4 linked regions of the Homo sapiens genome follow. The protein of the gene in region 2 purifies or fractionates together with the protein of the main gene of each other region. This does not show direct contact. Each region holds a gene or a part of one and is shown on either strand. Other genes may lie near its edges.

The links. Proteins that work in one complex are often made in the same cells at the same time.
Region 1: the proteins of MED13L (region 2) and ADD3 purify together in Homo sapiens (affinity purification with western blotting; one study listed by BioGRID and IntAct). This does not show direct contact.
Region 3: the proteins of MED13L (region 2) and OGDH purify together in Homo sapiens (affinity purification with mass spectrometry; one large-scale study listed by BioGRID and IntAct). This does not show direct contact.
Region 4: the proteins of MED13L (region 2) and ARHGEF2 purify together in Homo sapiens (affinity purification with mass spectrometry; one large-scale study listed by BioGRID and IntAct). This does not show direct contact.

Annotation. Positions count from the first base shown.
Region 1 is NC_000010.11:110,122,984-110,126,483, reverse strand, and holds part of ADD3 (gamma-adducin), read right to left. Parts: intron 2,468-3,500; coding exon 2,210-2,467; intron 659-2,209; coding exon 539-658; intron 68-538; coding exon 1-67. UniProt on the Homo sapiens protein: Membrane-cytoskeleton-associated protein that promotes the assembly of the spectrin-actin network. Plays a role in actin filament capping. Binds to calmodulin.
Region 2 is NC_000012.12:116,271,194-116,274,693, forward strand, and holds part of MED13L (mediator of RNA polymerase II transcription subunit 13-like), read right to left. Parts: intron 1-3,500. UniProt on the Homo sapiens protein: Component of the Mediator complex, a coactivator involved in the regulated transcription of nearly all RNA polymerase II-dependent genes.
Region 3 is NC_000007.14:44,704,127-44,707,626, forward strand, and holds part of OGDH (2-oxoglutarate dehydrogenase complex component E1 isoform 1 precursor), read left to right. Parts: intron 1-3,098; coding exon 3,099-3,262; intron 3,263-3,455; coding exon 3,456-3,500. UniProt on the Homo sapiens protein: 2-oxoglutarate dehydrogenase (E1o) component of the 2-oxoglutarate dehydrogenase complex (OGDHC). Participates in the first step, rate limiting for the overall conversion of 2-oxoglutarate to succinyl-CoA and CO(2) catalyzed by the whole OGDHC.
Region 4 is NC_000001.11:155,954,548-155,958,047, forward strand, and holds part of ARHGEF2 (rho guanine nucleotide exchange factor 2), read right to left. Parts: intron 3,336-3,500; coding exon 3,166-3,335; intron 423-3,165; coding exon 355-422; intron 1-354. UniProt on the Homo sapiens protein: Activates Rho-GTPases by promoting the exchange of GDP for GTP.

The sequences.
Region 1 (3,500 bases), on a different chromosome or scaffold from region 2:
CAATTCCAGCAAGCAACTGAGATTGTGGTCCTGCTGTTTTCAAGTCATATCGATTTTGTTCCCGAATCTGAATTGAAAAACAATTCAATATAAAGTTCTTGAGGGCAACTATGCAGATGACCTTTGCTTTATCTTTTCATAAAAGCTTACTACTTGACATTTCCAGAGTGAGAGTCTCTTCAATTCCCACCTCCATAAAGACCTCTTTTACCATCCTAACAACTCATATTAGTCTCCTCTGCTCTTTATGGCAAGTTATTTCCTTTCGTCTTAGGTTGTTAGAGAACTGCATTTTCCCCCTAATAGCAGGGTTCTCTAACGCAGAAAAATGTTCAATACATCTTCCCCATGTAGCCTGTTCACCAATTACTAGCACAGAGCTGGAGGCATTCAATATAAGCTAAAATTATACTGAATTAAATTCCAAATTCTTCTGTATTCAAACTTCTAAGTTTGGCATTAACCAGATTCAACCACTGGTGATTTAAACATAAAGCAATTAAAATGTCTCCCCTGGCTATAGAAGACCATGTCTTACCTTATTTCTCTTTTCTAGTACCTCATTCGGGTTTGTGTTTAAAGGAACAAACTGATTTGGATCTTCAATTTTGATAGGTGTTCCACCACTAACTTTAGATGAGTCTTCTGCTTTCATCCACTAAAGAATCAAAAATTTTCTAAAATGAAGCTTTGTGTTAAGAAAATATTAGTAGATTGTTAGATAACTGCTTATAGTCTCAAGAGGGGCATTGCCAATGTTTAAATAATTTCACTAAGCAGTATCTTAGTGGTGAATTAGTTTCATCTCATACTAGTTAGAAAAGGCTCAAAATCAACATTTACTTAAAAAATAAATGCCATTACGATTCACATAAATATTCAATTATACTGCTAATTAAACTTTCTCCTTGTGTCAAGTGAAAATATGATGCTGAAACTACTTCAAGCACAGAGAGCATGATCTCACATTCACTCACATTCAGTGTTTTGTCTTCTGCACTGAAGACAGCAGTCAGATGAAGATGGCAAAGGAGTAATCAAAAAAAAAAAAAACTTAAGAAATATCTTAAGATTTTAGTTTATCAGACTTCACTTTTTATTTTTGGCTGACAGAAAAGGCCAAGCCCTAATCGGCATTTTATAATGGGGATAATCTGGTATATAATAGCAAAATAGAACCACGGGGTTGGAAGGAGCTTACATAATTCTTCTCATTTACCCCATATTATAATCCTTAAAGAAAGCGAATCTCGATCAAGATTAATGATGGCTGACCATCAATCTCTGTAAACAAAATGAATTCTGAGAAACCAATGAGTTTAATTATGTTCTTTTACTGGGAGGCAAGAAATCTTATAGACTACAGAAAAGACATTTTGATGCCTAGGTATTTTCATATTGAATGCCATTAGTTTATATAAGATGAACTAATTCTGAATATCTAGAACTGTGGTGTCCAATCTTTTGACTTCCCTGGGCCACATTGGAAGAACTGTCTTGGGCCACATATAAAATACACCAACACTAACGATAGCTGATTAGTTTAACAAAATCACAAAAAATTCTCATAATGTTTTAATAAAGTTTACAAATTTGTGTTGAGCTGCATCCAAAGCCATCCTGGGCCATGGACTGGACAAGACTGACCTAGAGAATGTTTGGTGGTATGCACTCCAAAACCAAACCAAACCAAATCTAATGCAAAATTCTGAAAAAGATAAAATAACCCATTTCTCTACCTACAAGATCTTGCCTAAGGGTAGCTATGTGCAGTGATTCATGCAGCTTTGGTACAATTAGGAGTTGATAACTTTTACAGTTTTAATTCACTGGTGAATTAAACTACTGGTGTAGTTTAATAGAAACTACAAAGCAGTATCATGTAGTGGACAAGAACTGGGCTCAAGAGTCAGACTGTCTTCATGCAAATCCCGAGTTTACCATTAAAACATGATTAATTAACCCTTCTTGCCTTGGTTTTCTCATCTATAAAATAGAAAAACAGCATCATTCATATTAGGAGAGTTAAATGAGAAAATTCGTGTATGGCACTTAGAAGAGTGTCTTGCACAAAGTTAAAGCCAGATAAGTGACAGTAATATTTTTAATATTATTTTACTTTCCAAATATTTTCAATATAGAACATTCAATTCTTGAGTAACTAGGCAAAATATTTAGTAAAGGCAAACTACATAAAATACTGGCATACCGTGATTTTGGTTCGGGGACTGGTTTCTCCGTTCCGAGACTCCTCAGGCACATTCACTTTCATGTAAGTATTTGGTGAGTTCAGCCATCTTGTTTTTTCACGCTGTTGCCTCTGTGCCATGTATTTGAGAGGAGAGAGTGGCACTGTATCGTCTTCAAAGGAAAAAGCAGTCACAGTTGCTGGGATTTCCACATCACTCTTGTGCCTAGGCTTCTCTCGAATGAGAGGATGCCTGTAAGCATAGCCTGTTCTATACCCCTAAGGGAGGGAAAAGCCACATTTGAAGCATCAAACCTGTATCAATAACAGCATTTGGATCCTAATTCCTTTTGTATACAAATGATTTAAAAGACTCCTTTGCTAAAAAACAAAGAAAAAGGCATCCTTCCAAACACCACATAACTTTCATGTAACACTGGAGCTGAAATTATGCAAATTTCAAGACCTAGTTAGAGCTGATAACAGCTGATATTGCAATTTCCACTCACACAACTGTTCCCGACAAACGAACAGTTCTAAGTTGCTGACCAGAAGTGCTTTTCTATCTATAAAACTGTTCTGGGGAAGCAAATCTCAGTGCTCATTTAAGTCTCTGTTCCTGGGTCTGAAGGCAGTCAGCCTTCTGAGCCTTCACAGAAGAGGGTAAAATCTAAAATAACATTTGCCAAACCATACATCTTTTAAGGGGTTACTATCCAAAATATATAGGGGACTCAAAAAATAACAAGAGAAGAACCCAATTAAAAAATAGGCAAAGGATCTGAATAAACATTTCTCAAAAGAAGACATACAAATGGTCAACAAGTGTATTAAAACATCACTAATCAAGAAAATGCAAATTAAAGCACGAGATGGCATGTCCTGTTAGAATCGCTATTATAAAAAAGATGAAAGACAACAAGTGTTAGAATGTAGGGAGAAAGGGACCCTTTGCACACTGTTGGTAGCAATGTAAATTAGTATAGCCATTGTGGAAAACAGTATGGAGGTTCCTCATACAATTAAAAATAAAACTACCATATCACCCAACAGTCTCACTACCAGATATATATCCAAAGGGAATGTACTCAGTATGTCAAAGAGGTATCTGTACTCTCATGTTAGGTACACCATTATTCACAATAGCCAAGATATGGAATCATCCTAAGTGTCCATTGATGGATGGGATATAAATGTGGTATATACAACATAATGGAATACTATTCAGCTTTAAAAAAGAAATTCTGTCAAATGTGACAACATGGATGAACCTAGAGGACATTGTATTAAATAAAATAAACCAGGCACAGAA
Region 2 (3,500 bases):
GAAACAAATACGTGTGTGTGTGTGTGTGAGTGTGTGCGCTAGAATACTATACAGACTTTTAGGCTACCCAACTACCTCACTTTGAAATACATTAAATATAATTTCTTAAAATAGAAATGTTATTATGACAGGCACGCCTGTAATCCCAGCACTTTGGGAGGCCGAGGCGGGAGGATCACGAGGTCAGGAGATCGAGACCATCCTGGCTAACATGGTGAAACCCCATCTGTACTAAACATACAAAAAAAAAATTAGCCAGACATGGTGGCAGGCGCCTGTAGTCCCAGCTACTCGGGAGGCTGAGGCAGGAGAATGGCGTGAACCCGGGAGGCTGAGGCAGGAGAATGGCACGAACCCGGGAGGCGGAGCTTGCAGTGAGCCGCGATCGCGCCACTGCACTCCAGCCTGGGCCACAGAGCCAGACTCCGTCTCAAAAAAAAAAAAAAAAGAAACGTTATGACAAAACAGAAATTCTGGTGGCCAACATCACACAACAGTTTGTAAATCAGATCTGCACAAAATACATCTGAAATAAATGACACTAATAACAATGTTGCATGTATTTTTTTCTTCATTTCTACGGTTGCAATGCACAGTTCAATAACAGTAATACCTAATAGTCAACCATACTACTAATTCTCATAAAATCTGTCTAATCTGGCTAACTGGTTAGCTCCTGTGAAATAAATGTATCATTCACTTTCAAAAAAAACACACACACACACAAATCAGTACTCCTACTACTAGCTTAAAGAAGGGGAACATTGTTATTATTGTTATTTTCTTCAATCAAAAATAAGTCGAATGTTTCAAAAAAAATCTACTCTATCTTTGATTCAAAGTTGAGAGACAGCTGAATTAACTGTTCATAAAAAATAAACAATTTTTCTGTTGTCTGTTTCTCTATAAATATGTAAATAGTAATATTTACATATTTTCATTGAGATGAGTTTCATCTCAATTTTAAATTATTAGGCAAAAATAATTATAGAACAAAATTAACTTAGTTATCACAATTTATAGCACTAGTACAAACTGGTGAGAGAGATCTCTGAAAGTGGTAAGGAATACAATTAAAAACCAGGCTGGCCGGGCGCAGTGGCTCATGCCTGTAATCCCAGCACTTTGGGAGGCCGAGGCAGGCGGATCACAAGGTCAGGAGTTCCAGAGCAGCCTGACCAACATGGCGAAACCCCATTTCTATTAAAAACACAAATAAATTAGACAGGCATGGTGGCAGGCGCCTGTAATCCCAGCTCCTGGGAGGCTGAGGCAAGAGAATCCCTTGAACCCGGGAGCTGAATGTTGCAGTGAGCCAAGACTTCACCAGCCTGGGTGACACAGTGGGACTCTGGTCTCAAAAAAAAACCAAAACAAAAAAAAAAAATGATAAGCTATATAAGCACCTGGCATAAATTCAATAAATACATACTATCCTAAACACACCCCCTTGCCCATTCTTCTCACAAAGAATAGGCCCTACCTAACTTCTTCCCAGTGAGTACTTCAAGCAACATCCACAGCAAAATATTTGTAGCATACAGGCCTAAGGTACATTATTGTCTCTTTAAAATTATGAACTCATCACACATACAAATGGCTCTTTAAAACAGTCCAGTAAACTGCTACACTATGCCTTAAATTGCTGTCTATTATGTACTTAAAAATATTTACTAGCAATTGGAGGTTAATATGGCAACTATTACCGGGTGGCAATTATTGCTATTAAAAATATATAAATACTGTAACACCATGTGCTACTAACAACAAAATGCTAAACCGAAAACATACATTAACAAATTGTAAATATTTTCATTACAGAAAATGATAGCCAGGCGTAGTGGCTCATGCCTGTAATCCCAGCACTTTGGGAGGCTGAGGCAGGTGGATCACCTGAGGTCGGGAGTTTGAGACCAGCCTGACCAATATGGAGAAACCCCGTCTCTACTAAAAATACAAAATTAGCCGGGCGTGGTGGCACATGCCTGTAATCCCAGGTATTCCGGAGGCTGAGGGAGGAGAATCGCTAGAACCTGGGAGGCAGAGGTTGCAGTGAACTGAGATGGCACCTTTGCACTCCAGCCTGAGCAACAAGGCGAAACTCCGTCTCAAAAAAATAAAAAATAAAAAGAAAGAAAATGAACCATCATGGAAAAAAATGCTTTAAACATAAATTATAAAATCACAATGAACTGGTACAAAAAAATACCTTGTGTATTTTGGCACTTTGAAAATTAGAGAAATCATTCCCTTTTCCTAATTTCCATTTTATAGTCCACCCTATTTTGTTCTAGCGCAAAAAAAAAAAAAATTCAGACTTTCTACATTTACAACTACCTTCCCATTCTGCAAAAAAATCCCTTAAGACAAAAAGAAAGTAGGTCAACAATAGATTACCTTAAAAGCTTCAAATATAGAACTAATGGTCTTCAATAGGAATTATGTACTAATGGGTGTACTAGTGTCTCAATTCAGCAAGAATTTGAGATTATCACCCAATTATCCATAGTCAGGAAGATTCTAAGCAAATAAAACATGAAAGTGGAGCATACATATCTAAGAACTAGAGATCACTCCCTCATATCAAAGAGCACATATTTAAATCTAGTTAAAGGGCACAAAATCACTTTCTCCATATTAACTCAATAGAGAAAAATAAATGTCTACTTAACATCCAGAAATTATGTCTTCTCACAAGAATGAGTTCACATACCATAGGGTGCACTGTTACACTTTTCAAAAAGGCAGATTTAACACACTTTTAACTGAATGATTAACTGAGTGAATATATAAAAAGTCACCCAGAAATGTGATGGACAGCATAAGAAAATAGTTTTGAGTCAGAAAGGCACAGGCAGGCATGCACTTAATGCAGCAGCTACAAATCTCACAGCAGTTAGAATAAGAAACTTATACAATGACCCATATCATATATACACAATGGCATTTTTCACACGTTAGGAAAAGGGAATGGATGCTGAAAAATTAATTTAAGAAATTTGATTCCGTGCAGTAAAAAATCAGAAAATAAGTAAAAGACTAGCAGAAATCTTAAAGTGTCTGATTGATTGCACAATCAACTTTTGGTAAGCCATAATGAACACCTCAAGGTAATGGAAACTGGGTGGGTATTACCACGGTACAGAACTTAATCTCTTATTTCAATCTAACTAATGAGAGTATCTAGGTAAATTCTTTATAAATACTTTTCTCTGCAAAAAAAAACAAAACAAAAAAAAAAAAAACCCTGCAGGCCAAAAGAAAAAAATGCATGCTATTATTAAACCATAAAGCGTTCTTATAAAAAAACATGATTTTGAACAAGTGATTACATCTCCTTCAGAAATAACTATGATATACAATGTACTTTGGGCAACATATTTTTAATATTCCAGGTTGCTACTGCTGTATAGCATTTTCAAAAAAAAAAAATCTCAATTTGGAATCAGAAAAATGTACAAGTCAGCAGTTTAATTAATTTACATTTCTTCAATAGCACC
Region 3 (3,500 bases), on a different chromosome or scaffold from region 2:
CTGCCAAACTTTCCACAGTGGCTGCATTTTACATCCCACCAACAGTATATGAGGATCCCACCATCTCTACATCCTCATCAGCACCTACTATTTTCTGGTTTTTTCATAGTAGCCATCTTAATGGGTGTGAGATGATATTTCATTGTGGCTTTGATTTATATTTCTGTAATGATTAAGTGATGTTGAGCATCTTTTCATATGCTTATTGGCCACTTGTATATCTTCCTTGGAGAACTGTCTATTAAAATCCTTTTTTTTTTTAATTTAATTTTTTTTAAGAGACAGGATCTCTCTATGTTGCCCAGGCTAGTCTTGAACTCCTGGGCTCAAGGAATCCTCCTACTTTGGCCTCAAAGTATTGAGATTACAGGCATGAGCCACGGTACCCAGCCTATTCAAATTATTTGCCCATTTTTGAATCTGGTTGCTTGTTTTTGAGTCTTAAGAGTTCTCTGTATATTCTAGATATTAATTCCTTATCAGAAATATAATTTGCAAATATTTTCTCCCGTTCTATGGGTTGTTCTTTTATTCTGTTGTTAGTATCTTTGGTTTTGGTTTTGGGTTTGGGTGTTTTTTTTGTTTGTTTTTTGTTTTTTTCCGAGATGGAGTCTTACTCTGTTACCCAGGCTGGAGTGCATTAGTGCAATCTCAGCTCACTGCAACCTCTGCCTCCCAGGTTCAAGTGATTCTCCTGCCTCAGCCTCCCAAGTAGCTGGGATTACAGGCGCACGCCACCATGCCTAGCTAATTTTTGTATTTTTAGTATAGACAGGGTTCCACCATGTTGACCAGGCTGGTCTTGAACTCCTGACCTCAGGTGATCTGCCCACCACAGCCTCCCAAAGTGCTGGGATTACAGGCGTGAGGCACTGCACCTGGCCTGTTGTTAGTATCTTTTGATGTACAAAAGTTTTTAATTTTCTTTTTTTTTTTTTTTTTTTGAGACGGAGTCTCGCTCTGTCGCCCAGGCTGGAGTGCAGTGGCGGGATCTCGGCTCACTGCAAGCTCCACCTCCCGGGTTCACGCCATTCTCCTGCCTCAGCCTCCCAAGTAGCTGGGACTACAGGCGCCCGCCACTACGCCCAGCTAATTTTTTGTATTTTTAGTAGAGACGGGGTTTCACCGTTTTAGCCGGGATGGTCTCGATCTCCTGACCTCGTGATCCGCCCGCCTCGGCCTCCCAAAGTGCTGGGATTACAGGCGTGAGCCACCGCGCCCGGCCAAGTTTTTAATTTTCATGAAGTCAGATTTGTCTATTTTTTCTTCAGTTGCCTGTGACTTTGGTGTCATATCTAAGAAATCATTACCAAATTCAGTGTTGTGAAACTTTTGCCCTATGTTTTCTTCTGAGTTTTATAGTTTTTGCTCTTATGTTTAGATCTTTGACCCACTTTGAGCTAATTTGTTTTGTTTTTTATTTTTTGTTTGTGTTTTTTTGAGACAGAGTCTCACTCTGTCATCCAGGCTGATGCAATCGTAGCTCACTGCAGCCTCAATTCCTGGGCTCAAGTGATCCTCCTACTTTGGCCTCCCAGAGTACTGGGATTACATGTGTGAGCCACTGTGCCCAGACTTTTATTCTGTTTGTATCATAAATGGAATTGTTGGCCTAATTTCCTCTTCTTATTGTTCATTGTTAGTGTATAGAAACACAACTGGTTTTGGTTACGTGCATATGATGCGTAGTGCTTAAGTCAGGGTATTAGGGTGTCCGTCACCCGAGTACGATACATGTTTGTTAACCTTACTCCTTTATCAAACGTTGAACTTAATTCCTTCTATCTAACTGTATGTTTGTACCATTCAACCCACTTTTCTATATTTTTTTGAGATAGATTCTTACCCTGTCACCCAGGTTGGAGTGCAGAGGCATGGTCATCATGGTTCACTGTAACCTCTGCCTCCCAGGCTAGAGTGATTCTCCCACCAAAGCCTCCCAAGTAGCTGGGAACACAAGGTGTGCACCACCGTGCCTGGCTAATTTTTGTACTTTTGTAGAGACGGAGTATCACCATGTTGCCCAGGCTGGTCTCGAACTCCTGAGCTCAAGGGATCCTCCTGCCTCAGCCTCCCAAAGTGCTGGCCAACCCACTGTTCTCTATCTGAATATTTTCTCTGATTGTGTTGAAAGTTTTTATATTTGTAAAATTCTGAGCAGCAGAAACAGAGTAAACATGGGATTTTTTTTATATAATTTTTTTTTTTTTTTGAGATGGAGTTTTGCTCTTGTTGCCCAGGCTGGAGTGCAATGGCGCATTCTTGGCTCACCACAACCTCCGCCTCCCGGGTTCAAGCAATTCTCCTGCCTCGGCCCCCCGAGTAGCTGAGATTACAGGCATGCGCCACCATGCCTGGCTTATTTTGTATTTCTAGTAAAGACAGGGTTTCACCATGTTGGTCAGTCTGGTCTCGAACTCCTGACCTCAGGTGATCCGCCTGCCTCAGCCTCCCAAAGTGCTGGGATTTACAGGCGTGAGCCATGCGCCCGGCTGGTATTTTTTTTTTTTTTTGTCTGGAGATGGAGTCTTGCTCTGTTGCCCAGACTGTAGTGCATGATCTCAGCTCACTGCAACCTCTGCCTCCCGGGCCCAACCGATTCTTCCACCTCAGCCTCCCGAGTAGCTGGGACCACAGGCGCACACCACCATGCCTGGCTCATTTTTTGTATTTTTTTAGTAGAGACGGGGTTTCACCATGTTGCCCAGGCTGGTCTCGAACTCCTGAACTCAGGCAATCCGCCCGCCTCAGCTTCCCAAAGTGCTAGGATTGCAGGCGTGAGCCACCGCACCCGGCCGGGATGTTTTAATAATACTCTTGTCCCCGAAGTCTGAGCCAAGCTGTTTTGAAGGCTAGCCTGGTGTTACTTGATACCCAGAGCTGGCCATGTCTGCTGTGTATTTGTTACACGTAACGTGCTTTTCAAAGTGTGCCTGGTCTGAGCAAATACAGGGCATCAGAGGCTGGTGAAGGGGAAGCATCTCTAACCCTTGAAAGCTGCGTCTCCTGGCAGCAGTCCCTGGCACAGCCCTGGGCCCAGGAGAGCTCTCAGCCACATACCTGAGAGAACCAGCCTAGCCATGGGAACTCTCTTGTAGGAACCCACTTCCAGCGGGTGATCCCAGAAGATGGCCCTGCAGCTCAGAACCCAGAAAATGTCAAAAGGCTTCTCTTCTGCACCGGCAAAGTGTATTATGACCTCACCCGGGAGCGCAAAGCACGCGACATGGTGGGGCAGGTGGCCATCACAAGGATTGAGCAGGTGAGGGCAGGTGGTGCCATCAGGGTGTCCCCCCAGCGGGGGTCAGGGCTCTGGTGCCTTCACAGAACAGCCTTGCTTGGGGTGTGGCCCTCAGGTTCCTGACCTTCCCTGCTCGGAACACCAGTTTCCCTTTGCTGGATCTTGCCTGCCCTCTGAGTTTCCTCTTTTTGATCTGACCCCTGCTGTCTCCTAGCTGTCGCCATTCCCCTTTGACCTCCTGCTGAAGGAGGTGCAGAAG
Region 4 (3,500 bases), on a different chromosome or scaffold from region 2:
AAAGTGCTGGGATTACAGGCGTGAGCCACCGCGCCCGGCCAATCTACTTCCTTTTTTAAGGAAGAAGATTTTTGTGGTCTTTTAGTATAGCAGTTAAATCATACCCTAACTAATATAAGGCCTTACAGTGAAAAAGTAAGTTACTCACCCAACCTTGGTCTTCCATATTATTTTTACACACATGGTAGTATACACTTTACATTGTTTTAAACCTTGCTTTTTTCACTTAATATGTTTCAGTTGTGGATCTACACCAGCCCTCATAGAGCCATCTCATCTTTTTAACAGTTGCATAATATTCCATTGTGTGAATGTATTATAAATTACTAAGGAGCTCCTTGTGGGTGGACTTACTCTTAATTCGCCGCAGGTAAGCCTCATCCTCTGTCTCAATCAGGGGGAAGTCCTCCCTGGATGGGCATCTGGAGGGGTAACAGGTCGCATGCCATTGAGAGACAGAAGCTAGGTTATAGACCAGAATCAGCCTTCCCTCCTTCCCAAACATGCCTTATGCTTCCATCTTCTGATAAGACTCCTCAGCCTCACACCCTAGCTTTAATTTAGTCCTGACCTTCTCCCTTTTCTTTCTTTTTTTTTTGAGACGGAGTCTTACTCTGTCACCCAGGCTGGAGTGCAAGGGCGCTATCTCAGCTCACTACAACCTCCTCCTGGGTTCAAGTGATTCACTTGTCTCAGCCTCCTGAGTAGCTAGGATTACAGGCACGCACCACCATGCCTGGCTAATTTTTGTATTTTTAGTAGACATGGGGTTTCGTCACGTTGGCCAGGCTGGTCTCAAACTCCTGACCTCAGGTGATCCTCCGCCTCCCAAAGTGCTGGGATTACAGGCATGAGCCACCGCGCCCGGCCGACCTTCTCCCATTTCTTAGCACTGATTATCTGCGTTTACTGAGATATATCTCTCCAAAGGTCGCTTGGAAAGGCAGCACAGTGCAGAGGGTCAAGTACAGGCTTTGGCATCAAGCAAACAGGATGCAAATCCTGGCTCCACTGTTTACCAGGTGGTAACCTCTCTATTTCCTCATTTGAAAAATGAAGGTAATATCTTCCTCATAGGTTTTTCATTAGGATTAAATGAAATGTTAAAGTGCTTTGAACATAACAGAAGCTCAACAAATCAATTACAATTAATATTATTAATTTCCACAATTATAATTTTTTTTTTGAGAGAGAGTCTTGCACTTTCGCCCAGGCTGGAGTCCAGTGACAGGATCTTGGCTCACTGCAACCTCTGCCTCCCAGGTTCAGGTGATTCTCCTGCCTCAGTCTCCCAAGCAGCTGGGACTACAGGCACGCACCACCATGCCTGGCTAAGTTTTATATTTTTAGTAGAGACAGGGTTTCGCCATGTTGGCCAGGCTGGTCTCGAACTCCAGTGGTCCGCCTGTCTCAGCCTCCCAAAGTGCTGGGATTCCAGGTGTGAGCCACAGCGCCTGGCCACAATTATAAATATTAATACTATTAATAAAGAAGCCACTACAGATCTGTCAACAGGACAGGTTATTTTGAACTGCTTTCTTGGAATAGGCAATTTCATAATTTTTTTTTGGAGATGGAGTCTCACTCTGTCACCTAGGCTGGAGTGCAGTGGCACAATCCTGACTCACTGCAACCTCCACCCCCGGGTTCAAGCGATTCTCCTGCCTCAGCTTCCCGCGTAACTGGGATTACAAGCTTATGCCACCACGCCCGGCTAATTTTTGTATTTTTAGTAGAGACGAGGTTTCACCATATTGGCCGGGCTGGTCTTGAACTCCTGACCTCAAGTGATCTACCCGCCTCAGCCTCTCAAAGTGCCGGGATTACAGGCGTGAGCCACTGTGCCTGGCCTGCAATTTCATACTTTTATATGCATTTCTAAAAACCTTTTCAAAATTCCATGGTGCAGAAGTTAAAAAAAAAAAAAGGTTTACAAATTATAAAGTTGAGAACTGATTCCCTGAAAGCTAAAGAAAAATTATAAAAATCTTGGCTGGGCATGGTGGCTAATGCCTGTAATCTCAGCTCTTTTGGAGGCTGAGGTGGGCGGATAAATCTGAGATCAGGAGTTCGAGACCAGCTTGGTCAACATGGCAAAACCCCGTCTCCACTAAAAATACAAAAATTTGGCTGGGTGCAGTGGCTCATGCCTGTAATCCCAGGACTTTGGGAGGCTGAGGCGGGTCGATTACGAGGTCAAGATATCAAGACCATCCTGGCCAACATGGTAAAACCCCGTCTCTACTAAAAATACAAAAATTAGCTGGGCATGGTGGCGTGAGCCTGTAGTCCCAGCTACTCAGGAGGCTGAGGCAGCCCGGCAACAGAGACTCTGTCTCCAAAAAAAAAAAAAAAAAAAAAAAATTTGCCTGGGGTCGTGGTGGGCACCTGTAGTCCCAGCTATTTGGGAGGCTGAGGCAGGAGAATCGCTTGAATCCAGGAGGTGGAGGTTGCAGTGAGCTGAGAGCGAGACTCTGTCTCAAAAAAAATTAAAAAAAAAAAAGAAAGAAAACCTGTAAAAATCTGAATTAGAATTACACTTACACTTCATTCTTTAGGCATAATCTTCCAGAATCCATTTTAAACATCTTACCTGTGCTTTATTTGATGTTTTTTCCCATCACAATTAGACACATAGTTGACTGCCTCAAATCTAATGTGTGTCCAATAGAAGCTAAAGATTTGCTGCTTTGACACACTGATTTCCTTCTTGCTTCTATTGTGTTGAGTCTGTTTATGAGACTTGTTCCTCTCTAGTATCGATGCTTTCATTATCCTCTTTTTCATTCATTTTTAGAAAAATAAATGTAAAATACAATACAATCCAAATAACAGCCCTCTGCCTACAGATGAACATGTGAATGCAGCTGAAATTGTACTGTTGGCTGGCAGGTATGCCACCATGTGACAGCTCAAAGTATTCCCTTGCTTGTCAGCTCATGCTGAATTTGAAAGGGAGTTGAGGTTGGCAATGTATAAAATGTGGCTTTACAGGACATAAGAACATAGGTGACCTTTCCAGTCTTGGGCCATTTTGTCTCTCCCTCAACCTCTTCCCCCACCTCTGAATGCTGGATTCTGTTCCCAGGGAGTTCTATGGTTGGGATCTAATGCTGCAGGTACCCTGAGGTCATAAGCACATGCAGGCGGCAGGCAGACACTCACGTGCGCACGCTCTGCTGAATGACCCGGATCCAGGTGCTCCGGTCATCCCGGGATGCTGTGTGCACCTCGTACATCTCAGGTGGGGCTGCGCTGATCAGAAACATCCCTTTCTCCTGGTTGGCAATGTCTCGTACGATTAGATTCTGCAGCGATACCACTGAAGGCTTGTCCTGCCAGTCAGGGGAAAGGAAGGATTAAGCCTGGGAATCCTGTCCCTTGGCATATTTAGGCCTTCAATCCTTCTGGACGAGGACTGAAAGGACTGAAGAGTCATCTTACAATACCAGTTAAGAGCCAGGCACTGGTGCCAGCCAGAAGGGACTTAGAAATGTGTG